2 linked regions of the Homo sapiens genome follow. The protein of the gene in region 1 interacts with the protein of each later gene in a biochemical or structural test. Each region holds a gene or a part of one and is shown on either strand. Other genes may lie near its edges.

Region 1 (7,789 bases):
AGCATTGGGCTGGGCTTGGAATAAACGGTAAGAAGCTAGGGGAACAGCCCTTCTGACAGCAACTACCTCAGGGCAAGGGCCCCGAAGCAGGCCTAGCATGGCCAGTTAAAAGGCAGGAGGAAGAGTGGACAGGCTTGAGCATAGAGAACGGAGCCAGGAACTGTGTGAGGCCGAGAGTGGGCAGCAGCTGAGCCAGGTGGGCTTTTGCAGGCCAATGAGTATTTGTGGAATGCATTAACTCTCTGAGAAGTGGAAACCAATATTGGTCAAATTAATATGCAGCTATTGAGAGAGTCCTGAGGAGCTGGAGGAAACAGAGGGAGTCAGGGGTGCCCTGGGAGGCTGGAGGGATCACAGGCCTAGTCCCGGAACCTTGGCTATGAGTTTCAGCCTGATCCTCAGGCCCTGGGCACCCATGGGAGGGTTTTAGGCAGGATGACATTATCTGGATTTGCACTTTAGAAAGGTAGGTAAATAATGCCTCACAAACACCTTCCATGTGTCACACACTCGGCCTTTAATCCTCAAAACCCCCTGAGGTGATGGGGGTGGCATTCCAGCACTTCCCCACCTCTACCACATAACAGTGAGGGTTTGGTGAGCCAAACTCATGAGCTCAGATGAGCAGGAAATTGCCAGAAAAAAATAGGCCCAGTTCTGTGGTACTCCCAAAGATCCTCTTACAGTGACTTTTCTCTTCTAGGATCCCATCAGGCTCCTTGGAAAGTGCTTCTACTTCCGAAGCCAACCCTGAGGGGCACTCAGCCAGCTCTGACCAGGACCCTGTGGCAGACAGAGAGGGCAGCCCGGTCTCCGGCAGCAGCCCCTTCCAGCTCACGGCTTTCTCCGATGAAGACATTATAGACTTGAAGTAACAGAGTTGAATCTCATTTGCCATCTTTAGTTTTCTTATGGAGGTTTATACTCTTTAAACAGTTCTGATGTAATTTCTCAACAAAATGTGGCTTTTAGCCTGTCAGTGATCTATTGGACCAAACCTTCTGCACACTCGGCCAGTTCCCTCTCCAATGTCCGGTGCCATCTTTCCTGACCTTTGTTTCTTTCTGTTCAGGAACCATCAGTCCCCTTGTAATAAAGGTGGTAGATTTCATTGAGGTTTTAGATTGAAACTTTGAATAAATCAAAAATACTCATTCTTATTTACTGCAACCTTCTCATATTTTATATACTTAGATGGAAAATTATTTTTTCATTACAGTTTTGATTTATGTCACATAATGTGTTTCTTTTATAAAGAAAAGTCGTTGCTTTTTAACTTTATTATAAGTAAGTTTTTTTTCTGCACCTTTGGCCCCGGTTGCTGTTTCAGTTCACCGTGATTGGAACCAGCTGCATTCCTGCCTGTAGACTTTTGAGAAAAGTTGAATGGTTAGATCTTAGAAGCTCCTCCTTCTTCCCTGCATCTCATGAAAAATATTAAGGCATAGGAGCTTGTCAAAAGTCTTCAGATTATTTTGTGTGGTTTTATTGTTACTCTGCAATAATGTAACCAGAGAACAGCTACTCCTTGTGGTTAAAAGTATTCTCATTGTAATCCCAGTGCTTTGGAAGGCCAAGGTGGAAGGATCCCTTGTGCCCAGGAGTTTAAGGCTGCAGTGAGCTAAGATTGCACCACTGTTCTCCAGTCTGGGCAACAGAGGGAGACCCTGTCTCAAAAAAAAAAAAAAAAAAAAGAAAAGAAAAGAAAAAAAAAAGAAAGCATTTTCAAACTCCTCCTTCTTTTTGAGTCCCCCTCACTCTTTCACATAAATGATATGAAGATAATAATTTGGTTTATCTGCCTTTCCTGGCTCCCTCTCCAGTGTGAACAGAAAGAAATGTGGACTGGGCCAAGTGCAAAAGAAATAGTGAAATCTCAGCCACTAGCCAAGGGGAGATCCAGTTTCACTAGCATTGTTTGCAAATATTTTAATCTGTGTGAAGAAGGTATTTTACCTTTGGCTTTAGTCTAGCCAATTCAATTTTATTCTGTCTCTTCCTACTTATATTATTACATTATTCATCAAAGGAAACTTCCTGTTACCCCGTTAAAGCAGCTCAGAAGAGTTCTTCTGCAGGCTTTTTTTTTTTTTTTTTTTTAGACAGAGTCTTACTCTATTGCCCAGGCTGGAGTGCAGTGGCACGATCTCGGCTCTCTGCAACCTCCACCTCCCAGGTTCAAGCCATTCTGCTGCCTCAGCCTCCTAAGTAGCTGGGATTACAGGCACGCATCACCACACCCAGCTAATTTTTGTATTTTAGTAGAGATGGGGTTTCACCATGTTGGCCAGGCTGGTCTCGAACTCCTGACCTCGTGATCCGCCCACCTTGGCCTCCCAAAATGCTGGGATTATAGGTGTGAGCCACTATGCCCGGCCAGCAGGCCTTCTTTGTGAGTGTGGAGAACTGAGTTTGACAGGACCTTGGTCTGACAGATTTTATAGAAGTTTGGGTCGTACCTCCTAGTGGGCCTTGCACACTGTGGGGAAAGTTCCCCTCTCTGTCTTTTGTACAAACAGATCAGCATGATAGCCCAAGCTGAAGGTTGCTTGGTTCATCTTTGGCAGAAGGCAAGAGTCAAGAGTAGTAAAGACAGTGCTTTTTAGGTATACCCAGATGGGGCTGTTTATAACCAAATGTGTCTGCTCATATTCTTTGCAGCAGTTAGCATGCCCATTCTTCCTTTGTGTGTTTTATGCCCTTTTCCTATATAGGGGGAAAAAAACACTGTGTCTCAACCCCACCAACAGTTTAATGAATTATGTTTTATTATTCTTGCTTTTCAAATAAGGAAATAGGCTTAGGAAGGGGCAATGGTTTGAACCTGCAAGTTCTTTGACTCCAGAGCCCTTGCTTTCCCCACGTCTGCCATGCAGAGCCAGGCTCAGTGCCTTGTGTCAGCTGGATCTGGCTGGTGTTTTTCATGTTAAACTAATTTGTAAGCTTTATGAGCTTGTATCTGTGTTTTTCCTTTTTTTCTGGAAGTTTCTTGCTTCACAGTGTAGCATAAAAAAAACCCAAGGACTATTTTAGAGCATTCTTCCAAATCAGCAGCATTAGAGCCACCCACAATTTGACAAGAGTCACAGGTCTGAGGAGTGATGTAGCAAGGGCAAGAGGTGGACCCTACTGATCAGGCTGATGGTGCTTTGCCTATGAAAAGGGGGCAGGAGGCTGTTCTGGCAACATTATTTGTCTACAAAGGCCAAGAAGTGAGTTCTGCACACTCACGGGAAGGGAAGCCATCGGCCACAGGGTAGGAGCACCCTGCCTACATAATCCTTTCTGTGTACCCGACTGGCTGAGTCACACAGAAAATCATCTAACTGCAGTGTCTGCCTATGGAGTTGGAGGCATTGATCCACTCTGCACACACCAAGTGCCTCCTCTCCAGAGGAGGTCATGTCCATTGGGGGAAGGACGGAAGTAAACAAGGGATCACAAAGCAGTGATAAATGCTGTGATAAGAATACACATCTAGTGCTCGAGTTATCAAGCATTAGATGCTGTGGGAGTACAGAAGGGCAGTTGCCTAAGTCTTTAAGGATAGGCTTGTGGTCAGGACTGAAAAATGTTGGTTGCTAGAACCATCAAGTGACTGCAACATATCAGATGACTGTCTTCATCATACCGGTTAGCCTTTGAGTGCTTCACATGTCTTATATACATTACCTTGCTTCACAACTCTCCTGGAAGATAATGGTCATCCCCACTTAGAGATGAGGAAACACAAGGCCCAGAGAGGGATTACAAGCCAAGCCTCTTACTCCCATGCCCTGGCTCTTTCCAGAATTACACCAGCATTCCACCACAGCTGCCTGCACCCAGAGTGTTGGGTATGAATCGGGTACAACTGGTGAGATCCAACAGTGCCTCATCATTCGACTTGGGTGCACACGGGAGAAGGTGGCATTAAAATCCACAGGGAACTCAAAATATGGAGGCAGGTAGATGAAGATTCAAGAGTCAGGACTCCCTGTGAAGTGAGTGACACTTAAGAGGGGGAGTGGAGCCCAGATCTGTCACACATACGGCGTGGGGGACCCCACCTACCACTGGTCCTCAGCACCTGGAGACCCGAGCCTTCAGCAATCTGGGAAGCATGAAAGTGGGTTTCGGTGCACAGGGCCACGCCTCCGCCGCCAGCAGCCCAGCGGGAGCGTCTGACCAGTCTCGCCCTCCGAGAGGAGAGAGAGGCGGCCCAGGACGGTCTGCTTAGAGGCTCTCTCCCCTGCAGAGCTGGGCCCAGGCATAGGTCAGACGCCTCCAATACAGTCCCCAGGGCAGCGATTAAAGCGGAGCAGGAACTGCAGACCCGACCGGGCAGGACAGGTGCAGCTTCTCGGAGTTGGGGGCGGGAAGTCTCGGGCTGAGGCCCACGTGCTTCGCCTTCGCCCCGCCTCTACCCTCATTGGTTGAAGCCAGATTGAGAGGAGGTGCCAGAAAAAAAACTCCTCCCTCCAACCTCATTGGCCAGCTCAGTTCTGAGGCAGCTCTCTGGCCCCGTCTATGGGCTCGCACTACACTCCAATTGGGTGGTTGTTCTCCCAGACGGAAACTCCGCCCCACCTGTACCTTGGACCGCTCCGCCCTAGGGGCGGTTCCAGCGCGCTTCGCTAATCGGTTCTATGCTCCCATTGGTCTGCTTTAATGTGAAGGGCGGGTCCTAGCTGATTCGCTAGCCCCGCCTTGCGTTCCTATTGGCTGCTCCTGCTCTGCGGTTCCGATCCCGCCCAGCACCGTCCCCCACCCCCCGCCGCCCATTGGCTGCGAGAGGCCGGTGCGGGCCGCACTCGCAGGGCCCGTGGCGGTTCAGGCGCCAGAGCTGGCCGATCGGCGTTGGCCGCCGACATGACGCCCGAGGACCCAGAGGAAACCCAGCCGCTTCTGGGGCCTCCTGGCGGCAGGTGAGCTCCGGGGAACCCGGGCCCGGATGCGGCCTCGCCCTCCCGCCCCTCCGCGTCCGCTCCGCTCACCCTCGGCCCTGTCCCCCCAGCGCGCCCCGCGGCCGCCGCGTCTTCCTCGCCGCCTTCGCCGCTGCCCTGGGCCCACTCAGCTTCGGCTTCGCGCTCGGCTACAGCTCCCCGGCCATCCCTAGCCTGCAGCGCGCCGCGCCCCCGGCCCCGCGCCTGGACGACGCCGCCGCCTCCTGGTTCGGGGTGAGGCCCCGGGCTCGCTCCTCCCGCCCTGGGACCCCACGCCCTCCTCTCGGGACGGGCATCGGGACCCTCCGCCCCCCACCCTTCCCCTCGGGACAGGCATCGGGCCCCGCCGCCACCACCTTTCCCCACGAGACAGGCATTGGGCCTCTCTGCCCCCCATCCCTTCCCTCGGGACGGGCATCGAGCCCCTCAGCCCCCACCCCTCCCCTCGGGACGAGCACCGGGCCCCTCAGCCCCCTACCCCTCCCCTCGGGACGGGCGCGGGGCCCCGGCTCTTTTACCTCTGAGCCCGCGGGGAGTGGGTGGAGGGGGAGGATGGGCTGCGGCTTCGGCGCCCCCTCCTCAGCAGCCGCCCGCCTCCAGGCTGTCGTGACCCTGGGTGCCGCGGCGGGGGGAGTGCTGGGCGGCTGGCTGGTGGACCGCGCCGGGCGCAAGCTGAGCCTCTTGCTGTGCTCCGTGCCCTTCGTGGCCGGCTTTGCCGTCATCACCGCGGCCCAGGACGTGTGGATGCTGCTGGGGGGCCGCCTCCTCACCGGCCTGGCCTGCGGTGTTGCCTCCCTAGTGGCCCCGGTGAGTGTCCCGTCTCTCGAGTGTCCTGTCTCGCGGCCTGAGACCGAGGGGGAGTGGGACAAACCGCTCCCCAGGCCTGGGGGCGCGGCTCCCCCTGGCGGGACCTTCTGGGTGCCAGGCTTGAAGTCCCTGCGTTATCTCGCGGTCCCTCCCGTCGACCCTGGGAAGGATCCTACTGTTCTCTCCATTTTACACTGAGGTCATGACATGCAGTCTCGGAAAGGTGAAGTCCTTTGCCCAGGCGAGGTCCACAGCTAGTCAGAGGGGAAGCAGTTGCAGGAACCCAGGGTTGTCCCACTTAGCCGTGCCCCTCTTTTGCTCTGCAAACCTGCGGATGATCCACAGGAGCCCACTCCCTACATTTTGGTTTTCATCCCTGGCTTCGGGTCAATGACTGCAATTAGCAGGAAGTTCCTGTCCTGATTTCTCTTGGGGCAAAGGCTGCTGGCCTCTGTGTTCCCCTTCCCTTCTCACAGGCCAGCCCCTCTGGCTTCCCCATCTTCCCCCTTTCCCCCTCCTGACCCAGGCTGCCCACTTGGGAGCCCCGAACATCTGGGTCAAATCCTGGTTCTGCCACTAACCTGAGCAGAGTGCCTCCCTGGGCCTCAGTTTCCTTCTCTGGAAAACAGGGATTATGGCATTAGCCCCTGAGGTAGTGGTCAGGATTCAGTGGGACTTTGGATAGACAGCCCCTGGCATGGCTTGTAGAGGACTGGATCCTGACAGCTTGGTGACCCATGAACTGCCCCCAGCCATGGGCTTGGACAATATCTCCCCCAAGTGAGGTTGAAAGCAGCCACTCAGGCCCCTCCCTGGGTGCTCATTTCACCAACGTTTGCTAACCGGCAGCAGCAGCTGGACCAGAAGAGGGTGGGGAAGAAGCTGGGCCTTTTATGTCTTTGGTTTTTTTAACTGGGCAGAAACACACCTGTGTTAGGGGCCTAAGCTATGGAATAACCTTAGATGCATGGGTGAGGGCCTGGTGGCCTGTGGGCCCAGGAGGGAGCTAGTGGCAGCCACTGGTAGTGACCGAGGCAGAGAGTTCGTGCTTCTAGTCCAAGGCCACCACTCAAAGCGTGGGCCCTGGGCTAGGATCCTGGGTGGGCGTCACGTGGAGCTGGTTAACAAGGTGGAATCTTTCGCCTGTCCAGACCTACTGCATCGGAATCTATGATTTATCCAGGGTGTCTGTGCACATTAAACGAAGGCTTGAGAAGCTCTGTGCCCACCGCCTCTCGTCATCATATGCAGCCCTCTCCGTTACCCTTAATCCCCTTTAAACACCTGCCACAGATCTTTCAGTGGTGGGGACCTGGGGATGGCTCTGCTCACCTAGGCAGGTTCCACTAAGGGGCTTCAGGGCCTGCCGTAACCCCCTGCAAGGACTTTCCTCAGCTCTGAATGGCTGAGACCTTTCCATTTTAAGAACTCTTGGAGCCTGAGTAAAGCCTCATCTTTTTTTTTTTTTTTTTAATTTTTATTTAAAAATTTCGGAGTTTCGCTCTTGTTGCCCAGGCTGGAGTGCAATGGTGGGATCTTGGCTCACCGCAACCTCCACCTCCAGGGTTCAAGTGATTCTCCTCCCTCAACCTCCTGAGTAGCTGGGATTACAGATGTGTGCCACTAGGCCCAGCTAATTTTGTATTTTTAGTAGAGATGGGGTTTCTCCCTGTTGGTCAGGCCAGTCTCAAACTCCCAACCTCTGGTGATCTGCCCGCCTCGGCCTCCCAGAGTGCTGGGATTGCAGGCATGAGCCACTGCGCCCAGCCATAAATCCTCATCTGATTGCTGGCAGGTCTACATCTCCGAAATCGCCTACCCAGCAGTCCGGGGGTTGCTCGGCTCCTGTGTGCAGCTAATGGTCGTCGTCGGCATCCTCCTGGCCTACCTGGCAGGTATAGTTGTCATTATCTCTTGCTTCCTGTTTGTGGTCATGTGGCCATTTTACAGATGTGTAAACAGAGGTTCAGTGAGGTCAAGGGACTTGTCTGAGGTCACATAGCCAGTGCCCAACATGCCAGGCTCGCCTTCCTGGGACCTTGGGATAGGTGAGTCTT
Region 2 (7,000 bases), on another chromosome or scaffold:
TCATGGACCTTTCTGCCAGTGCTGCTGTATGCGCTGGCTTTCGTGGAGCAGTTATTGCAGAGCCTACAGTTTTGTTAGTGTTTGGGTCTATTTGTGCTTTTATAGTATCAGATTTGTGCAGGTTTTCTTTTTGAGATGGAGTCTCCCTTTGTTGCCCAGGCTGGAGTGCAGTGACGCGACCTCAGCTCACTGCAACCTCTGCCTCCCGGGTTCAAGCGATTCTCCCACCTCATCTTCCTGAGTAGCTGGGATTACAGGCACCTGCCATCATACCCGGCTAACTTTTGCGTTTTTGTAGAGACGGGGTTTCACCATGTTGGCCAGTCTGTTCTTGAACTCCTGACCTCAGGTGACTGGCCTGCCTCGGCCTCCCAAAGTGCTGGGATTACAGAAGTGAGCCACCGTGCCCGGCCTGTCTCAGTTTTGTAAATGCTTCCAGCTGGGTACACAAATGTGAATGAACTATATTAAAAATGCTCTCATGATGTATGGGTGCAGCCGGGAGGGGCAGGGTGGGCTGCGGGCCACTGGAGACTGGTGAGCACCGTTCTGTCTTGCCCAGAAGACCCTGCAGTGCGAGGCCGCCTGACTGAGTGCCTGGAGACCATCCTGAACAAAGCCCAAGAACCGCCCAAGTCGAAGAAGGTCCAGCACTCCAACGCGAAGAATGCCGTGCTCTTCGAGGCCATCAGCTTAATCATTCACCATGACAGGTGTGTCGGCTGCCTGTGGAGAGGCTTCGTCTCGCGCACACACACACGTTCCTTCTCGTTGGCACGAGACTGGGCGGATCATGTCTGGTTTGTCCACTCCATGGGCCTCCCCTTCGTCCTGCCTCTGTGCTCCCTGCCGGATGCTTTTTTTCTTTCTGTGCAGCCCGGCCCCTCCTGCTCTGAGCTCACCGTGGATTGCTTTGGTGACTGTGGTCTCATCCCACACGAGGGCCTTTTCCTCCTTCCCCTGAGCATCCCCACTCCTGACTGGCTTCTCATGTAGTGGAACAGAGAGGAGACGGGTGGGGTGGGGGGTGTGCGCGCATGTCCCGTGGCTTTGCTGGATGTGGAGCCGCACTTGGTGGGTCCAGGGTCGCAGGGCAGTGCTGGAAACGTCTGTGCCCATCCACGAAGCGCAGAGGCGCAGGGTGGCGGTCGCTCCACACAGCCTGGAGGGTCTGCCTCCTCTGCTCCCACGCCTTCTCTGCTCAGCAGTTGCGGCGCACCACATGTGGTCTGGCGTGGGTCTTGCGTGTGGGGCCATGCTTTAGGGTCCTGTGAGAATGAGATCGCAGTTCTCACCAGGCTCCCAATAATGAGGGCACGTGCCAGGCTGTGGGCAGACGCTCTCTACAGCTTGTGAACACCACCCATTTGCTACTACAGCATTTTTACAAATGATGAAAACTCAGTCTGAGAGTCACACTTCAGAACTGAGAGTTATTAAAACTGAAATTTCCCATTTTGGAGAAAGCTCTGTTGTTATGTGAGGAGAAGCCACATCCTGAGGAGACAGTAGAGTCAGTGGGGCAGCAGCCGCGCTCCCGGCCTTCTCGGCCTTCTCCCTGCCCTGGGCTGGTGCCTCTGGCTGAGACCCCATTGCCGGTCACAGCTTGACCGGCCTCCCGCGGGCCTGATGCAGATTGAGGCTCAGGAGGTGCTGGGAAGGCTCCAGTGGACACACGGGCTGCTGACTCACTGTGGGGATGCACAGGATGGACACAAAATGGATGTCAGGGGTGGGGGTCGGGCGTCATCTGCATCTGGGGAGGCCCCCGAGTTCCCACTTGAGCAGTGTGGTGGCGGTGAGTGCCGTGTGACTTTGCTGTCTGCCATCTGGACCCGTCGGGGAACGCAGACTCTGTCCAGTTTGTGTTGCACTTGCTGAGGAAACCCCACCCACTTCCCCTCCCTCCACACAGTGAGCCGAACCTGCTCGTCCGTGCCTGCAACCAGTTGGGCCAGTTTCTGCAGCACCGCGAGACCAACCTGCGCTACCTGGCCCTGGAGAGCATGTGCACGCTGGCCAGCTCTGAGTTCTCCCATGAGGCTGTCAAGACGCACATCGAGACGGTCATCAACGCCCTGAAGGCGAGTGCCCTGTCCTTGGGTTCTGCTCACTCCCTGAGCAGGTGCCGTGGGTCTTCCTGTGAAGGCTGGGGGTACGCAGTGCCTCCTGACTCCCCGCAGAGATGGAGGTGGTGCTGGTGCTGCTGGCCTCCGCCTGTCACCTACTCTTGGGAGGTCACACCACTGTTGAGGGCCATGCTGCCTGGAGATGGCCGGGTTGGCCCTGCTGTCCTGGTTAGGCTGAGCAGAGGAGTCTCTGGCAGCCCTTTCCCTGCTGGGGGCAGCCCCCGTGTGCCATCCTGCGCGTGCATAGTGCTGACAAGTAGAAATGGTTCTTCTTGGTAGAAAGATGAAATTTTTTTCCCTTATCTCCAAGAAAATCCCCCTTTTACAAAGGAAACTCACTTTGTTCGGGGATTAAAATTTCAGAGTTGGGGCCGGGCGCGGTGGCTGACGCCTGTAATCCCAGCACTTTGGGAGGCCGAGGCGGGTGGATCACAAGGTCAGGAGATCGAGACCATCCCGGCTAACACGGTGAAACCCCGTCTTTACTAAAAATGCAAAAAAAAATTAGCCGGGCGTGGTGGCGGCCGGTGCCTGTAGTCCCAGCTACTCAGGAGGCTCAGGCAGAAGAATGGCTTGAACCCAAGAGGCGGAGCTTGCAGTGAGCCGAGATCGCGCCACTGCACTCCAGCGTGGGCGACAGAGCGAGACTCCGTCTCAAAAAAAAAAAAAAATTTCAGAGTTGGAAGAGCCCAGTTGAGGTTGGCCATTGCCAGCCTTTGCGAGTCTCCAGAGCGACCCCGAGGGTTCGTTCCACATAGGGGACCCTGCGGTGTGTCCACCAAGTCCCTAGTCACCGGTGCACATGCGTTAGGGAGTGGGAGGCGGGGAGCTGCATGTCCCCCATCTGGCTCAGCCTCAGGCTGTGGCAGGGCTGCTCCCAGTCCCCCGCACGTCTGCGTGCAGCTCACAGATATTCCGGGTGGTGTGCAAGGGGCTCGTGGTGGGCATTTGGTATTCTGGATTCTTCTTGGTCCTGGTTTTGGTGTTTGTTTTAGTCAATCCCTATTGTCAGAAGGGCTGGACACTCATTTGCACACGGCCAGTGCTAGCGCTGGTGGTGCCCACTCTCCTGCCTTTGTTGGGAGCAGAGCTCGGGCTTTCTCGTGCTGCAGAGCCTCCTGGGGGCCCATCAGCACGGGCTCTGGGGTGGGGCGTGAGGACCTGCCTTGGGGCAGCTCCGTGTCCGAGGCAGTGGGGTCTTTGGCTGCATGGAAGGGAGTCCTTGATGGCCTGCACCAGGCAGTGCGCTCAGTCCTAGCGAAGCTGGCCCTTGTGGAGGGCAAGGGAGGCATGGACGAGCGGGCAGAATCCAGGCAGTGCGCTGGGTCCTAGCGAAGCTGGCCTGTGCGGGAGGGCCGGGCCAGCAGGCGGAACTCTATTCCGGGCTGTCCAGACACACGTGGCCCGAGTGCAGGTCGGCTCCCTGGACCTGGATGTGCATGTGAGGGAAACTCAGAGTGGGTGTTGAGATGCGGGTGCCGAGCCTGTCCCCAGCCTGTCCCCAAGCTTGTGCCTTGCTCCTGCGACCTCTTACTCTGTGCCTTGTTCCCCAGACTGAGCGGGACGTGAGCGTGCGGCAGCGGGCCGTGGACCTCCTCTACGCCATGTGCGACCGCAGCAACGCCCCACAGATCGTGGCCGAGATGCTGAGCTATCTGGAGACAGCTGACTACTCCATCCGAGAAGAGATTGTGAGTTCTGGTGGCCTCTGAGTCCTCTCCTGCCACAGGCGTGAATCTCAGCGGCAGGATTTCCTTCGTGCTCTGCGATTCCGTCCAGCAGGACTTGATTGAGAACCCATGAGATGCTGAATACAAGGCTCCTCTGCCTCTGTGTTTTCATCCACATTTTCAAGCTGGGTGTGGTGGCACCTGTGGTCCCCGCTACTCCTGAGGTGGAGGCGGGAGGATCACCTGAGGCCAGGAGGTTGAGGCTGCAGTGAGTCGAGATCATGTCACTGCACTCTAGCCTGGGCAACACAGCGAGACCCTGTCTTAAAAAAAAATCAGCATTTTTGGTAGAGTCGTTTGGTCTTGAAAATAACTATTGGCCGGGTGTGGTGGCTCACGCCTGTACACCTTGGGAGGCCAAGGCGGGCGGATCACCTGAGGTCAGGAGTTCAAGACCAGCCTGACAAACATGGGGAAACCCTGACCCCGTCTCTACTGAAAATACAAAATTAGCCGGGCGTAGTGGCGCATGCCTGTAATGCCAGCTACTCCGGAGGCTGAGGCAGGAGAATCGCTTGAACCCGGGAGGCGGAGGCGGAGGTTGTGGTGAGCCGAGATTGCGCCATTGCACTCCAGCCTGAGCAACAAGAGCGAAACTCTGTCTCAAAAAAAAAAAAACTAAAATGCCCGTCCTGCGCGGCTTCTGTGGCCTGCCTGTCCTTGCAGTGGTGGCACTGTAGCCCCAGGTCTGAGTGAGGCTCCAGCCGTCTGCGCTGGGGCTGCACAAATCCAGACTCCTGTGGGCAAAATTCTTTTAATTGTGTTGCATTTTGAGCCCTTGAATTAATCCTTTGTGGCTTGGCTTTTTTGGGTGTCCCTCTTGATCTCTGGGAAGGACGGGATCTAGGCCATAGCTTAATGTCCCGTGTTGTTTTTATTCACAAAGTAGGTGTGCACACTTGCCAGATAGCTGAAGCTCATCAAACCTGTACGTGTGAAAGACTGAGCATGAACCAAAACCTGAGGGAAGAAACCCTTGTGGAGGCCACATGGTCAGCAGAGAAGAGGGCCTGAGGCCTCCACCACACTCACAGGCCTCTCAGGCTCACCGTGTCTGTGGATGGTGGGGTTTAAGGGGGAGGCCCGGTGTCCTCGCGTGGGGTTCGCCACTGTGACCAGCCAGGACCACAGCCTCTTGTTGAGGCTGAGACAGCGCCTCCGTTGTATAGAAAGCGCTTTGTTATTTGTTTTTTTTGGGCGAAGTGCGGCTCAAGGCCTCCTTGGGAGCTTTGCCGAGAGCCAGTGTTGGAGCTAGTGGCAGGTGACAGGGTTGCTCTGGGCAGGTGTTGTGTGGTCATGCCCAGGTGAGAGACTCGGGTTTTCAGGGGTCTTTTAGTGAACGGAGGAGCCCAGGTGCTGGGGCTTCAATGCTGAGGGGTGAAATTACCATGGACTGAGCTTCAGTGAGGCACTGCAGACCTGCAGAGAGCAGGGGCCAGGAGGCGGCTCTCACGCTGGACTGTCCACCCTCCAGGACAGTGGGCCTGGGAAGTTGAGGGGGACAGGGACGGGGTGGGCTGACTCCCGGCAGGAGGCCCCAAGGGCAGGCACCGTGGTGTAGGGCAGGGCTGTCTGTAGAGGGGCCAGGCAGGTGCTCGTTGACTGTAGCCAGTGGTCCCTCTCTGGCCTGGCTGGGGCAGTGTGGCCTGGTGTCAGCACTTGTGGTGGGGTGGGGCTGGCTCTGGGGACGGCCGTCACGGGAGCCTCGTTCCTGATTGTTGTTCTGGGTGTTTTGAACAGAGACAGAAGCAGTGTGCTTCTGAGTGCAGTTGTGCAGATTTTGAGGTCCTGGGCATTCGTCAGCCCGGTGTCTGCTCTCGCCCCTCTGCGTGATGAGCGGCAATCCTCAGCCAGCTCCTGCTGTGAGGAGTAAGACAGGTGCTGTGTCTTGGCCTGCATGATGCTCCCCCCAGCCCGTCCTTTCAGCCGGACATGATGCTCCCCTCACCCCATCCTTTCAGCTGGGCATGGTGCTCCCCCACCCCATCCTTTCAGCTGGGCATGGTGCTCCCCCCACCCCATCCTTTCAGCCGGGCAGGGTGCTCCCCCCACCCCGTCCTTTCATCTGGGCATGGTGCTCCCCTCACCCCATCCTTTCAGCTGGGCATGGTGCTCCCCCCACCCCATCCTTTCAGCTGGGCATGGTGCTCCCCCCACCCCATCCTTTCAGCTGGGCATGGTGCTCCCCCCACCCCATCCTTTCAGTCGGGTATGGTGCTCCCCCCACCCCATCCTTTCAGTCGGGTATGGTGCTCCCCTCCGTCCTTTTAGCCGGGCATGGTGCTCCCCTCCATCCTTTCAGCCGGGCACGATGCTCCCCCCACCCCGTCCTTTCAGCCGGGTATGGTGCTCCCCTCCGTCCTTTCAGCCGGGTATGGTGCTCCCCTCTGTCCTTTCAGCCGGGTATGGTGCTCCCCTCCATCCTTTCAGCCGGGCATGGTGTTTCCCTCTGTCCTTTCAGTCGAGCATGGCAGGGCGTGTTCTCTGGCTGTGCTAGGTGCTAAGTGTCCAAACTGGACATGGCCCACTCCCTGCCTACTCGGCACCTTGCCATCCATGGAGGGGGACGGATTGAGAGCAGGACCGTGGGTTGCTGTGCTGTGGGTGGGATGGCTGGAGGAAGTGCCTCATGTTCTGGGGGCCTCAGGAGGCATTACACTCCTGGGGGGCTGTGTGGACTTCTGCAGAAGGTGATAGTGGCCTGGTCTGGAGAGGATGATGGTGCAGAGGCTACTGGGAGGGCAGAGCATCCGTTCGTGGAGGGGTGGGAGGTACCTTAGCACAGGCTGGGGAGCAGGGCACGCGAGGCAGGGGTGGAAGCAGACATGGGGACCCTGCCAGTGAGGCCTGAGGGCCCCTGGTGCACAGCCGTGAGCTGCGGGTAGGGCTCAGAGGCAGTACATTTTGGAATGATGCCCTGGAAGTGTCACGGAGTCAGGTTGGGGTTTGGGGGTCCAGGCTCCAGGCAGGGACTTGGGGTGGGGGGGCACAGTCACCAGCACCTGAGAGGCCAGTGGCAGGGTGTGGAGAGGGGGCGGCAGGGTGTGGGGAGGGGCGGCAGGGTATTAGGGGTGCCCTCGGGAGGTGCGCGGTCTTGATGCCTGCTGGCGTTGGTGTTGGCAGCTGGCGCTGTTCGAAGGG

The links. Proteins that work in one complex are often made in the same cells at the same time.
Region 2: the proteins of SLC2A8 (region 1) and AP2A2 form a complex in vitro, tested with the Homo sapiens proteins (one study listed by BioGRID).

Annotation. Positions count from the first base shown.
Region 1 is NC_000009.12:127,392,380-127,400,168, forward strand, and holds the start of SLC2A8 (solute carrier family 2, facilitated glucose transporter member 8), read left to right. Parts: upstream 1-4,789; 5' UTR 4,790-4,851; coding exon 4,852-4,907; intron 4,908-4,996; coding exon 4,997-5,159; coding exon of another isoform or gene 5,160-5,525; coding exon 5,526-5,732; intron 5,733-5,792; exon of another isoform or gene 5,793-5,934; coding exon of another isoform or gene 5,935-5,955; intron 5,956-7,527; coding exon 7,528-7,627; intron 7,628-7,789. Other genes in the region: GARNL3 (GTPase-activating Rap/Ran-GAP domain-like protein 3), read left to right, coding at 704-875.
Region 2 is NC_000011.10:984,870-991,869, forward strand, and holds part of AP2A2 (AP-2 complex subunit alpha-2), read left to right. Parts: intron 1-562; coding exon of another isoform or gene 563-565; coding exon 566-713; intron 714-1,915; coding exon 1,916-2,084; intron 2,085-3,682; coding exon 3,683-3,820; intron 3,821-7,000. UniProt on the Homo sapiens protein: Component of the adaptor protein complex 2 (AP-2). Adaptor protein complexes function in protein transport via transport vesicles in different membrane traffic pathways.